Linked DNA regions of Homo sapiens. The protein of the gene in region 1 purifies or fractionates together with the protein of each later gene. This does not show direct contact. Each region holds a gene or a part of one and is shown in the gene's direction. Other genes may lie near its edges.

Region 1 (3,500 bases):
AGCGGGTGAGGAAGCAGACGACTGGCTTAGGAAAATGGAAGTATATCCCAAACCTTCTGCAGAACCAAAGGAACATCATCTCTGAACCAAATCATTACTCACCACGTGAGTAATCCCTTCCCTGTTCCTTCCAGGAGGGCATTGTAGCTGTGTGTATCATTGGATGACTAAATCTACTATTGGAGGCAAGGTATCTGGTTTAAAAATGGTGTAAAGAACCCTTTTGTCAAGCTCCAGTGAGTTGAGCACAGAGCGCCTTGCACACTACTGCGGGCCATGACAGAAAGCCCCTTGGGACCCCTGGACCTCCCAGGCCAATCTAGGGTGGGGACACCATGCATAGGAACCTCCTCCTCAAATCTGGAGTGAGGCCAGCTCATTGGGAGACACCAGAGGGCCCAGAAAACAGCCACTGACAGCCACTGCCTGCTGCTCCCTGGAGACTGTAGCGCATCAAAGGGCTTTCTTCATGTGTTCCTCTATCCCACACTGCAGGGATTGCATTCCTGAATATCTCAAAGTAACTCAAGCTCTTTACTTGCATTTCTTGCATATCCTGAGGGGGGATATTTGGAGCAAACTTGTTTAAAGTTTCCACTTTTTGGTCAGGCACAGTGGCTCGTGCCTGTAATCCCAGCACTTTGGGAGGCTGAGGCGGGTGGATCACTTGAGGCCAGGAGTTCAAGACCAGCCTGGCCAACATGGCGAAACCCCATCTCCACTAAAAATACAAAAATTAGCCAGGTGTGGTGGCGTGCGCCTGTAGTTCCAACTACTCGGGAGGCTGAGGCAGGAGAATTGCTTGAACCTGGGAGGTGGAGGTTGCAGTGAGCCGAGATCACGCCACTGCACTCCAGCCTGGGCAACAAGAGTTTCCACTTTTCTCTCCTCACCTCACTCACATACTCTACCTATACTTGAGCCTCTGGTTTTTTTGGGTTTTTTTTGCTCTTTCGTCTTCCTGGGTTTTTAAAAAAATATGGAACACTTTATGAATTTGCATATTATCCTTGCTCAGGGGCCATGTTAATCCCTGTATCATTCCAATTTTAATGTATGTGCTGCTGAAGTGAGTACTTGAGCCTCTGTTGCCTCCAACACCCTGAGAAACTTGCCCCAGCTGCAGCTCTTAGGAGTTTTTCGGCCACCTCCCTCCCCTCCTTGTTCTCCATCTCCAAAGTCCTAGGAGTGTCCGTCAAGGCGAGCCCTCTGTGGAGGGGAGAATGGGGGAAGAGGCTGCACAGGCCAAGCCAGAGAGGCAGGGGCTGGGGTTCCCCTTCACGCAGAGTTTTCTGGGCAGTGGTTGCTGGCAGTTGGACTACGGTGATGAGAAGCAGTTCTTAACGTGTGTCTGTAGACCTCAGAGTCCACTGTGGGCTTTCAAATCATCCCTTCAACCCGCTCACACCTCCCGTGGGGATTTCGACCTGCATTCATCTCTGAACACTAGGCGTGTGCCAAAGTCCACACTGACAAATGAGAACCAAAGTGAACAGTCAGGGTCTCGTCTCATCTCACCCAGGCTGAAAGGTGGCTCAGAAGTGGGTCAGACTGGCTCGACCAGGCACCCCAAAGGTGTAAGACTGAGAAAGAATTTTGAGTCACAAAAGGAAAGCAGCAGTGCCATCCTCAGGAGCCCCAAATGTCACAAACTGACAAATGACTTGGGCAATGTGATTGTGGTATGTGTTGCCATGGTTTTTTCAGATATTGCATGTTCTGAGAGCTTCATGGCAGCACCCATGTGGCTTAGAAACTGATTGTGGCACTCATTTGTACAGCCCTTGCTGGTAACACAATTTTTCTGCTGGGAAGTGCATCAGTGAAGGCTTGGGAGTAGACTTATTCTGAAGTCCTGAGATCTTATGGCCTCTTACTTCTGGTAACCATCATGGGGAAATCTGGACCCAGGCACTGCTAACTAAAAGCAGAATTGTTGATGCTACAAGAGAGTTGCAGTTGACCTTGAAGTTAGGAGTCAGATCCCAGGTCTATGTGACCTTGGAAAAGTCACTGTACCTCTCAGAGCTTCAGTTTTCTAACTTGTGAAATGGGGTCTGTGTGTGGCTATGGCCTCCTGTTAGCCTGTTCCTACTTCTTTCTTTCTCACCTTAGTTGTCATATCTGGTCCCTGGTACCCACTTCTTTACCAGTCCTTGATCCTGTCTTCAGCCTCAGAGGCATCCTGGACCCTGCGTATCCCTAGGCAGCCCGTTGATCCCAGTCACCTGCTCCTAGATGCCCAGAACAGGGTTTCTCAGCCTCAACACTGTTTATGCATGGGGCAGCATAATTCCTTGTTGTTGGGGGCCTGTCTTGTGTGCTGCTGGATGTTGAGCAGCATCCCTGGCCTCTAGCCACATGATGTAGTAGCACCCCCGACCAGCTGCGATAACCCAAACTGTCTCCATACACTGCCAGTGTCCCCTGCAGACTGCCACAATTGCCCTACTTGAGATCCACTGCCTTAGGCAGCTTAATTTCTGAGGCAGAGCTGGGATCCACAGTGATTTCACCACCTCTAATTTTTAGGTGTCTGCTTTGAAACTGTCCCGACAAATACCCAGAGAGGGAGCACAGCAACCTCAAACCCTCCCATGGCAAAGGATTTGGAACTTGGCAGAATTCGAGCTAGAGGGGTCATATTTTTGGAAATAATGAAGGGTTTAATGTTCTTTGCTTGCTTTTTGTTTGCGTTTACTCCAGGAATTTCTTCTGGGTGTGAGGTGGGTTTCATTTCTTCCCCCTTTGCTGCTATTCAGTGTTCTCTGGCCTCTTCTTTCTTCCCTCCCAGCTCCTCTTGTTATTTTCAAAGGGCTCGTCTCACCTAAAGATTTTGACTTCTTCTCTTCTTGTTATTCCCTCAGCTCAATAAAAGTCCCTCAGCGGGTTTATGAGTAATGCTTAAATCCTAGAAGAGAAAGTCCTTATGGAGAAGGCAGATGAGGGGCCCGTGGGGCACCTGTCGGGCGGCTCTGAAGACTCTAAGCATGGGTTGGGGGAGGGCAGTGGACCTCAGGGAAGCCTCAGGCCACAGGGCTGCGCACGGCTTCCAGAGACAAAACTGGGAAGCTCAGAGCGTCTTGCTGCGGAATTCAGTATATGTAGAAAGGCAGCTTGGAATATTCTACCAAAGGAAGAGGGCTTCTTGTCCTTTGGAATCTACTTAAAATGTTAGCACATTGGAACTATTCAAATGTACTCTCCATTTTACTTGAAAGTCAAGGGCATTTCCTGCTGCAGGGTGGAGTGTGTGTGTGTGAGTGTGTATGTGAATGTGAATGTGGGGAGTCTGCATGTGAGTCTGAGTTTTTGTGAGTGTGTGTGACTGTGTGAGGTGTATGTATGTGTGTATGACTGTATGTGTGTGACTGTGAGAGTGTTTGTGTGACTGTGTGTTGATTGTGTATGTGTGTGAGAGTGTCTGTGGCTGGGTATGAGAGTGTGTTTGCAGATGTGTGTGTGACTGTGTGTATCTGTGTGTGTGTCTGTGGTTGTGT
Region 2 (3,500 bases), on another chromosome or scaffold:
CTCTTTTTTTTTCTTTTCCCCTGCTCTGTTGTCCAGGCTGGAGTGCAGTGGCGCCATCTCGGTTCACTGCAAGCTCCGCCTCCCGGCTTCACGCCATTCTCCTGCCTCAGCCTCCCTAGGAGCTGGGACTACAGGCGCCTGCCACCACGCCCGGCTAATTTTTATTTTTATTTTTAGTAGAGACAGGGTTTCAACGTGTTAGCCAGGATGGTCTCAGTCTCCAGACCCTGTGATCCGCCCGCCTCGGCCTCCCAAAGTGTTGGGATTACAGGTGTGAGCCACCGTGCCTGGCCGAGGCTCCTTCTTTTGTAAGAACTTTGAGGGTGCTCTGGGTGTGGCAGTGGTGTGGCCAGGACAGCCACAGAGACCGTTCTGTAGAATGGGAACACCAGCCACCATGGTGGGGTGGCCAGGCCTGGCCTGTGGAAAAATGCAGGGAAAGCTAGTTAGCCAGTTAAAGCTTATTTCAGATAAATGACGAAAAATTTTTAGTGTAAGTATGTCTCAGATACTTCATGGGCCATACATTCACTAACAAAATTATATATTGTTCATGTATTGGGAGGCACTTGGCCTCCCAGAGTACTGAGATTACAGGCATGAGCCACTGCGCCCGGCCTGTTTTCTCTTCACAACAAAACGTCCCCACATGGGCTTGACTTCGAAGTCCTCGAATGTCATCTCATGGAAGCCCCACTGGGGAGCATCCTCAGCCCCTGCCCAGGGAGGGCAGCCACGGGGAGGGCGGGCACGGGGAGGGTGGGCACGGGGCTGCGGCCACCCGCTGTGTTGCAACTCTGCCCTCTGCTTGCTTTTTATCGCTGTGTCCGGAAGATGAGGAGCGGGAAGGCCTCCTGCACCCTGGAGACCGTGTGGGAAGACAAGCACAAGTATGAGGAGGCCGAGCGGCGCTTCTACGAACACGAGGCCACACAGGCGGCCGCCTCCGCCCAGCAGCTGCCAGCCGAGGGGCCAGCCATGAATGGGCCCGGCCAGGACGACCCTGAGGACGCTGATGAGGCGGAAGCCCCTGACGGCGGCAGCAGGCGTGATCCCAGGAAGAGCCAGGACAGCAGGAAGCCCCTGCAGAAAAAGAGGAAGCGCTCCCCCAAGAGCGGGCTCGGCCCCGCGGACCTGGCCCTCCTGGGCCTCTCGGCCGAACGCGTGTGGCTGGACAAGTCACTTTTCGACCAGGCAGAGAGCTCCTACCGCCAGAAGCTGGCAGATGTGGCTGCCCAGGCAGCCTGGCCTCCTGCCTTGGCCCCTTGGGGTCTCTGCACCCATGGAAACCAGGTGGCCTGCCACCACGTGACCTGGGGGATCTGGGTCAACAAGTCCTCCTTCGACCAGGCTGAGCGGGCCTTCGTGGAGTGGTCTCAGGCCCTGTTGCTGGCCCCCGACGGCAGCCGCAGGCAGGGGACTCCCAACACAGGCCAGCAGGTGGCCGTCCCCGACCTGGCCCACCAGCCCAGCCCACCGGTCAATGGCCAGCCCCCGCTGGGCAGCCTGCAGGCACTGGTTCGGGAGGTGTGGCTGGAGAAGCCCCGGTATGATGCAGCCGAGAGGGGCTTCTACGAGGCCCTGTTTGACGGCCATCCCCCAGGGAAGGTGCGCCTGCAAGAGCGAGCCGGCCTGGCCGAGGGTGCCCGGCGGGGCCGCAGAGACCGGCGGGGCCGCAACATCTTAGGGAACAAGCGGGCCGGGCTGCGACGGGCCGATGGGGAGGCCCCCTCTGCCTTGCCCTACTGTTACTTCCTGCAGAAGGATGCAGAGGCCCCCTGGCTCAGCAAGCCTGCCTACGACAGCGCCGAGTGCCGCCACCACGCTGCCGAGGCCCTGCGGGTGGCCTGGTGCCTCGAAGCTGCCTCCCTGTCTCACCGACCCGGTCCTCGGTCTGGCCTGTCCGTGTCCAGCCTGAGACCCAAGTAGGAGAAACGTGCTGGGTGGGCACCCAGCCTGGGCTGTGGGCACAGGGACAGCCATCCCAGGCTGGGGCTCCTCCAGCTTCCTCCCCTGCCCACCTGGGGTGGGGGCTCCCCGAGACCCGTGGGCCCAGCAGAGTTGAATGCAGGAGCAGGCTGAGTAAAGGTGGTGCTGCGCTTGTGGGTTCCAGGGACACTGCTTGAGGTTACAAAGTTCCAGGCTGCCTGGATGAGGGCAGGGAAGGGCTCAGCACAGGGCAGAATCTCTGCCTTGCCCAGGGTCCCTCTTTGGCTGGGAAGCTCCCCAAGTCCCCTGTGGCTGTCACATGCCAGGGCTGAGAAGATAAGGCTACTTATAGGGGCGGGAAGCATTGAAGCTGGTTTCTGGCCCTAGCGCTCCCCTGCGATGAGATGTGGGAGCCAGTGTGTCCCTGCCTGTCCATCCTGTGCACCCCCAGCTTTCCTTGTCACCTGAAACCACCTCTGAGGGAAGGTGGTGGCGTCTCAGATGCATGGGCATGTGGCTGGTCAGGTGGCCTCCATCCCAGGGTGCCCCGTCTGTGTGACCTCCCTCTGGGTGCTGTGGGCTTGCTCCAGGGTGCAGGTGCAACCCCAGCAGCGGTCTCTGGGGCCAGGCAGGTGGGTGGACGATTGGACTTGGAGGGGAATACAGAGGGCATGGAAGTGGCGAGGCTGGCCTGTTGGCGAGGGTGTCCTGGTGGTGGGGCGGGCTGAGTCAGGGAAGGACTCTGAAGGTCCCAAGCAGCTGCTGAGGCCCCCAAGGAAGTGGTTCCAACCTTGGACCCCTAGGGGTCTGGATTTGCTGGTTAACAAGATAACCTGAGGGCAGGACCCCATAGGGGAATGCTACCTCCTGCCCTTCCACCTGCCCTGGTGTTCACGGTGGCCTGGTCCCTCCTTGCCGAGAGAGTGTCCTGGGTCAGGGACGCAGAGGACGCTCACAGACTCCAGCCCTTTGTTACCGAGAGGACACTTGGCAAGGTCCAGCGATGGTCCGGAGTCCACACACAGACTGGCGGCAGGGCAGGAGGGGGACAGTTCTGTTGTGCTTGGTTGGACAGTAAGAGGGTCTTGGCCAGTCCAGGGTGGGGGGCGGCAAACTCCATAAAGAACCAGAGGGTCTGGGCCCCGGCCACAGAGTCATCTGCCCAGCTCCTCTGCTGCTGGCCAGTGGGAGTGGCACGAGGTGGGGCTTTGTGCCAGTAAAACCACAGGCTGGATTTGCCTGCGGGCCATGGTCCCTGTCTAGGGCAGCAATTCTCAACCTTCTTGCTCTCAGGACCCCAAAGAGCTTTCATTGTATCTATTGATTTTTACCACATTAGCAATTAAAACTGAGAAATGGGCCGGGCACGGTGGCTCACGCCTGTAATCCCAGCACTTTGGGAGGCCGAGGCGGGTGGATCACCTGAGATCAGGAGTTCAAGACCAGCCTGGCCAACATGGTGAAACCTTGTCTACTAAAAATACAAAAAATTAGCCAGGCACAGTGGTGTGCACTGGTAGTCCCAGTTACTCGGGAGGCTGAGGCAGGAAAATCGCTTGAACCCAGGAGGC
Region 3 (3,500 bases), on another chromosome or scaffold:
AAATTATTGAATGAGACTTTACAAGTAAAGCAAAGTTTGATTCGTGGATTTAGGAGGAAAGGTATGTGCATACATGCATGTGTGTATGCATTCATTCATTCTTTCTAATGTGTAAATCATAAGTTTTCAAATATTTGAAGTGTTTCATTATAGTGACAATGTCAAAATACCTTATAACTCACTATCCTAAAGACCTTTTTAGATTATTTTAACATATTTAAAAATTTTAATTGAAATTTTTATCGAGTGTATTAGGGTTCTCCAGAGGGACAGAACTAATAGGATATATGTATGTATGAAGGGGCGTTTGTTAAGGAGAATTGGCTCACATGTTCACAAGGTGAAGGCCCATTATAGGCCACCTGCAAGCTGAGGAGGAAGGAAGCTAGTAGTGGCCCAGTCCGAGTCCAAAGGCCTCAAAAGTAGGGAAGCCAACACTGTAGAGCCTTCAGTCTGTGGCCAAAGGCCCAAGAGCCCTCGGCAAACCGCTGGTGTAAGTCTGAGAGTCCAAAGGCCAAAGAACCTGGCGTCTGATGTCAAGGGCAGGAGGCATCCAGCAGGGGAGAAAGATGAAAGCTGGAAGACTCAGCAAGTCACCTATCCCACCTTTTTCCTCCTGTTTTGTTCCAGCCTCGCTGGCAGCTGAGTGGATGGTGCCCACCCATATTGAGGGTGGGTCTTCCTCTCCCAGTCCACTGACTCAAATGTTAGTCTTCTCTAGCAACGCCCTCACTGACACACCCAGAAACAAGACTTTACAGCCTTCAATCCAATCAAGTTGACATTTAATATTAACTGTCACACTGATGTTTTCATGTACAGATGTAAGAAACAATGCAGAGTTCCTTTTCACTTTGTCCAGTGTCCGCCATTGATAACATTTTGCAAAATTGTAGTATAGTATTACAACCAGGATATTGATACAATCTCCCATAGCGTTCAGATTGCCACAATTTTGCTTGTACTAGCATGTGTGTGTGCGGGTTAAGTTCTATATAATTTTATCCCCTGCGAAGGTTTGTGTATCCACCACCATAGTTAAGATAACAGCCGGGCCCAGTGGCTCATGCCTGTAATCCCAGCACTTTGGGAGGGCGAGGCAGGCAGATCACCTGAGGTCAGGAGTTCGAGACCAGCCTGGCCAACATGGTGAAACCACATCTCTACTAAAAATACAAAAATTAGCCAGGCGTGGTGGCGGGCACCTGTAATCCCAGCTACTCGGGAGACTGAGGCAGGAGAATCACTTGCAGTGAGCCAAGATCGTGCCGCTGCACTCTAGCCTGGGTGACAGAGAGAGACTCTGCCTCAAAAAAAAAAAAAAAAAAAAAGGAACTGAACTTGCCAACACAAAGATCCCTTGTGTTGTCCTTTTATAACCACAGACATCTCCTGCCTACACTCCATGCCCTCATCCCCTTGCCCCCTTCCTCCGTGCCTAATCCATGGCAACCACTAATCTTTCTTCCTTTTCTAAAGTTTTGTCATTCTAAAAATGTTATATAAATGGAATTATGCAGTATATTACCTCTTAGGATTGATGTTGTTTGACTTAGCTGAGATTATCCAGCTTGTGTGTATCAGCAATTTATTCCTTTTTATTGCTGAGTAATATTCTGTAGTATGGATGTACCTTGTGTGTGTGTGTGTGTGTGTGTGTGTGTGTGTGTGTGTGTGTGTAGCTTTTTACCTATTGAAGGAAATCAGGCTAATTCTGGTTTTTGGCTATCACAAATAAAATTGCTGTAAACATTTGTGTACTGGTTTTTGTGTGAACATAAATTTGCATTTCTCTGGGATAAAAGACCAGGAGTGCAGTTGCTGGGTTATATGGTAGTTGCATGTTTAGTTTTATAAGAAAGTTTTTTTCAAAGTGTCTGTACCATTTTACATTCCCACTAGCAATATGTGAGTGATTTAGTTTATCGGCATTCTCATTAGCATTTGATGGTATCACTGCTTTTTATTGGAGCCTTTAAAAAGCCTAAACATGGTTTAGCATGTTTATGTTTTTAAGAAGATCACAGCCGGGCGCGGTGGCTCACGCCTGTAATCCCAGCACTTTGGGAGGCCTAGGCGAGTGGATCACGAGGTCAGGAAATAGAGACCATCCTGGCTAACGTGGTGAAACCCCCGTCTCTACTAAAAATACAGAAAAATTAGCCGGGCATGGTGGCAGGCACCTGTAGTCCCAGCTGCTCGGGAGGCTGAGGCAGGAGAATGGCGTGAACCCGAGAGGCGGAGCTTGCAGTGAGCCGAGATCGCGCCACTGCACTCCAGCCTGGGCGACAGAGCGAGACTCCGTCTTAGAAAAAAAAAAATCACAAATATTAATATTATCTTGACCACTCTTATAAGAACTCAGTGGTTTCAAATTAATTTTGTGCTTTTAATCCAGGATGATGCCTTCTGTGTACTGGAGTTGGTTCCATTTGCCTCTCACTTTAAGAGGCAGGTTTAATGTAAATGTGCAAGTTTCTACTTAAAAGTTTTGTTACTTCGAGTCCATGAATTTTTGCTGAAACAGTACCGAGGCATGATTTTTATAACTTCTCTTAGATCACTTTTAAAAATCTGAATCTTTAAAACTTTTACTGTTAGGAATTTTTGACAGTAAAGTTAATAGTTACCAGTTAGTATGCATTTACCATGGATCAAGACTTTGTAACTGCTTTACAAATACTGTTTTATATCCTTTAAAATTCTGCTTTTGTAGCTTGTAGCAGTTGGAGTTGTTTGGAATACAGTGGCCATGTGGAGCTGGGCTAGCAGTAGACTCACTATGTGTGGCAGGTAGTGTTCATCCTGCTCTAATTCATAGATGATTTTTTTTTTCACTATCATGGGAAAATTGTGGTAATGTCTTACATCTTTAACTTATGTGAGTAAACCATAATTCATGTGCAATTAAGAGAGGACTCTATAAAATAGTGTGTGGTCCCTGTGAAAAGCATGCTTTTCCAGGATCTTTTTCTTTTACATTTCTTAGAAGAATATGTTTTCTTCAAATTAAAGTACATATTTTATAATTATCACAAATAAGTTACATATCTCTCTATTCCTCTTCTACTTATTTTGTTTTTATGTACTAGACAGCTTTCAAATGATGTGTTTGTTTTTATTTTGTGTATCAACAGGTGACAGTTAAAGGATTTGAACCTTTAATTCAGTTTGCCTACACTGCTAAACTGATTTTAAGTAAAGAGAATGTGGATGAAGTGTGCAAATGTGTGGAGTTTTTAAGTGTACATAATATTGAGGAATCCTGCTTTCAGTTTCTGAAATTTAAGTTTTTGGACTCCACTGCAGACCAGCAAGAATGCCCAAGAAAAAAATGCTTTTCATCACACTGTCAGAAAACAGACCTTAAACTTTCACTTTTGGACCAGAGGGATCTAGAAACTGATGAAGTGGAGGAATTTCTGGAAAATAAAAATGTTCAGACTCCTCAGTGTAAACTCCGCAGGTATCAAGGAAATGCAAAAGCCTCACCTCCTCTA
Region 4 (3,500 bases), on another chromosome or scaffold:
ACTGTGTTAGCCAGGATGGTCTCGATCTCCTGACCTCGTGATCCACCCGCCTCGACCTCCCAAAGTGCTGGGATTACAGGCGTGAGCCACCGCGCCCGGCCAATGGCATTCTTTTTTAAATTAGTAAACCAAACTAGTAAAAACTAAACCCAACTCCTCAATTTTATTTCATCCTTCTCTTTTCAAATAATTACTGAAAACAAAATTTACATTGAAGAAAATTATGTAAACATTTCATCACTTGAAGTTTGAGGTTTTGTTCCTTTTTATTCTAAGGGAAAATAGGAATTAGAGTACTTCTGAGATATTGGTTACTTGGAGGTTTTATTTTCCAGGTTATTTACTGTATTCTTCACAGATGAAGTTTTGCTTATATTATGTCTATTTTATAAGTGAGATTACACAGTAAGAAACTTAAGTGACTCCATTGCAGCCATAAAGCCAGGACTATATATATTTCTAGACACCTTCTTCTGTTGTAGCCCCATGCCCCATAGACATGGAAATCAAGAAATTACATCATTACTTTTGAAATTGGAAGAGTGTCATTCCCAGTGATGTGCTTGGCCTAGGTGTCTCGAAATAATGATGTGTGGCAGAACCATGAAGCAGTTCCTGGAAGAGCAGAAGACACAAAACTCTATGCTCCCACCCATAAGGAGGCAGAATTTCAGGCTCCCCCAGAGCCAATCCAACAAGAAGTGGAACGCAGAGAACCTGAGGAGCATCAGGTGGAAGAGGAGCACAGAAAGGCCCTGGAGGAGGAAGAAATGGAGCAGGTCGGGCAAGCAGAACATCTTGAGGAGGAACACGATCCATCACCAGAGGAGCAGGATCGGGAGTGGAAAGAGCAGCATGAGCAACGAGAAGCAGCCAACCTCCTGGAAGGGCACGCGCGTGCTGAGGTATGAAGTCACCCGCTTCTGGTATGGTGTACTGGGATGGAAAACCTGGCTTTATTTTTACATATTAAGGTAATATATCACAATCTCTAAAATAGAAATGTGAGTGATTCTACTAAACATTATATGCTCATATTTAAGTTTTCTCTTGTAATGTTAATAGCATAGCTATTCGCATACCTCAGAAAGATGATTGGTGATGAGAGAGCACAGCTGTTGTATGTGTGCATTCTTCTTTTTGTCAGTTGTACACAGTCAGAGATTCATTCTCACATCACCTTAATAGAGTAGAACAGGTGAGTACCTGATGGGGCACCTTCCCAGCTTGTACCCAAGTTTTGTCTTGAGCATCTTGAGGCAGAGAAAAATCTCATTTTCTATGATCAGGCGTCCTCCTCTCCCTGTTCATTTATTGTCAGTATGTTGCCTTTTGTATTCACCTTCAAGGTGGTTATTTAATTATCAAAAATCTGATTTTACTACTTGGAGATATTCTACTAGGTGAGCATATCTAAACAGCCTCTGCTCAGGATCCCTTACTGGACACGCCACTTACACGTAAGACTTTTCCCTTTCTTAAAAAAAAATGGCCAGGATTATTATAAATGATGCTTTAAAAGAAAACTCTACCCTTTCTTCTTTTAAACCAACAGTTAGTGCAGCTAGATGCCTTTCTTTTACTGTCTCTAAACTGAGTCTCAATAGTAGGTTACCTGGCCTTTACATGGGTGTGGATCACCTTCTATTTATAACTCTGAAGTTTTATTCGGCCTCAGATTTTCTGAGACTTCAAGCCGCTTGAGGCTTTAGGCTAAGCAGGTGTGAAGACCTCTGTAGTTGCCCTCTTAGGTAGTTGCAAACTTAACCTCAGAAAGCTTCTTCCAGTCTTGTGTCCTTCCCCAATAGGGGAAGTAATTCCCCACCAGCTTTACTTCCCAACCCTCTACCTCTTTCCTTAAGTGAGAATTGTGTGTGCTTTTGTTAGTTGGGGTATGGCAGGGAGGATGGGTAGTAGCTCAATGGGGTACAGACACTTTTTATTGATGCATAATATATGTATATATTTTCAGAGTATGGGCGATATTTTGAAACATTCATATAATGTATAATGATCAAATCTAGATAACCCATCACATCAAACCTAGATAACCCATCACATCAAACATTTATCTCTTTTTTATTTTGGGAGCATTCAAATTCTTCTAGCTGTTTTGAAATATAAGATAGATTATTGTTAATCGTAGTCACCCTACTGAACTACCAAACATTAGGTCTTATTCCTTCTCTCTAACTATATGTTTGTACCATTCATCAGTCTCTCTTCATCCCCCTTCCCAGCTTCTAGTAACCACCAATCCACTCTATCTTATCAATATCGCTTTTTTAAGCTCCTACATGAATGAGAATATGCAATGTATGTCTTTCTGTGCTTGAAGTTTTTCACTTAACATAATGGCCTCCAGTTCCATCCATGTCACTGCGTATGACAAGATTTCATTCTTTTTTATGACTGTGTATATGTACCACATTTTCTTTATCCATTCATCCGTTGATGGATGCTTAGGTTGATTTCATGTTTTAGCCATTGTGAGTAATGCTGCAATAAACCTGAGAGTGCAAGTATCTCTTCAATATAGCAATTTCCTTTCTTTTGGATATGTGCCCAGTAATAGGATAGCTGGATCATATGGTGGTTCTATTTTTAGCTTTTTGAGGAACCTCCATACTGTTTTTCATATTGGCTATACTAATTTACATTCTCACCAACAGCGTACGAGGGTTCCCCTTTCTCCACATCCTCACTAGCGTTTGTTGTTGCCTTTTTGATAAAAGCCATTATAACTGGGGTGAGATAATATCTCAGGGAAGCAGAGTTTTAAGAATTGCTGTATCAGATTTCCCTTTAATCAGAAGGCACCATCTTCTCAGCCATTCTTAGTTTCTTTGAAAAAAAATTGAATATCTGCTTTTCCACTATTACCTGGAATGTGGCTTTTTTTTTTTTTTTTTTTGGCTATGCTTAGCCTGGGATTGGTATATACATTACTAGAGTTAATTAGCATCCCTCGGTCTTTAACTGTTCATGGAAAAAGCCTTAGGCGTAGCATAAGGTCACAGATTGCCCAGTTAATGTGAAGTTACCAAAGTTACCAACTACTTGTTTATATCAGAGCCTTGTGAACATAAATTTTACAGTTTGAAACTGTTATCTTCGGTTGTCCCTTCTGTTCCATTTGAGAAGGGAGCACATTGAAAATCTGCCTTAATAGCAGTAGTTGGAAATATCAGCTGCTAAAAAAGCCAAGGGTGATTCAGAGAAAGTTGGGAAATAGGAGTTTTTGGACTTCATGTATAATCACAGTTCACCTGACAAATAGTCGTTAATAAACCAGCTCTGCCTCCTGAGTTTGTCAGGAGAAACAAATGAAGAGAAAACCCAGAGGAGCTAACCCCTCTTGCTCTGCACCAACTCTTTTTCACCCTAGGTGTACCCTTCAGCCAAGCCAATGATCAAATTCCAATCACCCTATGAGGAACAGTTGGAACAGCAGAGACTGGCAGTGCAGCAGGTGGAGGAGGCCCAGCAGCTGCGGGAAC

The links. The genes of interacting proteins can lie anywhere in the genome.
Region 2: the proteins of BATF3 (region 1) and EEF1D purify together in Homo sapiens (affinity purification with mass spectrometry; 2 studies listed by BioGRID and IntAct, with this or other methods). This does not show direct contact.
Region 3: the proteins of BATF3 (region 1) and BACH1 purify together in Homo sapiens (affinity purification with mass spectrometry; 2 studies listed by BioGRID and IntAct, with this or other methods). This does not show direct contact.
Region 4: the proteins of BATF3 (region 1) and GOLIM4 purify together in Homo sapiens (affinity purification with mass spectrometry; 2 studies listed by BioGRID and IntAct, with this or other methods). This does not show direct contact.

Annotation. Positions count from the first base shown.
Region 1 is NC_000001.11:212,689,841-212,693,340, reverse strand, and holds part of BATF3 (basic leucine zipper transcriptional factor ATF-like 3), read left to right. Parts: intron 1-973; exon of another isoform or gene 974-1,077; intron 1,078-3,500. UniProt on the Homo sapiens protein: AP-1 family transcription factor that controls the differentiation of CD8(+) thymic conventional dendritic cells in the immune system.
Region 2 is NC_000008.11:143,587,416-143,590,915, reverse strand, and holds part of EEF1D (elongation factor 1-delta), read left to right. Parts: exon of another isoform or gene 1-308; intron 309-834; coding exon 835-1,925; intron 1,926-3,500.
Region 3 is NC_000021.9:29,322,922-29,326,421, forward strand, and holds part of BACH1 (transcription regulator protein BACH1), read left to right. Parts: intron 1-3,137; coding exon 3,138-3,500. UniProt on the Homo sapiens protein: Transcriptional regulator that acts as a repressor or activator, depending on the context. Binds to NF-E2 DNA binding sites. Plays important roles in coordinating transcription activation and repression by MAFK.
Region 4 is NC_000003.12:168,029,925-168,033,424, reverse strand, and holds part of GOLIM4 (Golgi integral membrane protein 4), read left to right. Parts: intron 1-572; coding exon 573-905; intron 906-3,388; coding exon 3,389-3,500. UniProt on the Homo sapiens protein: Plays a role in endosome to Golgi protein trafficking; mediates protein transport along the late endosome-bypass pathway from the early endosome to the Golgi.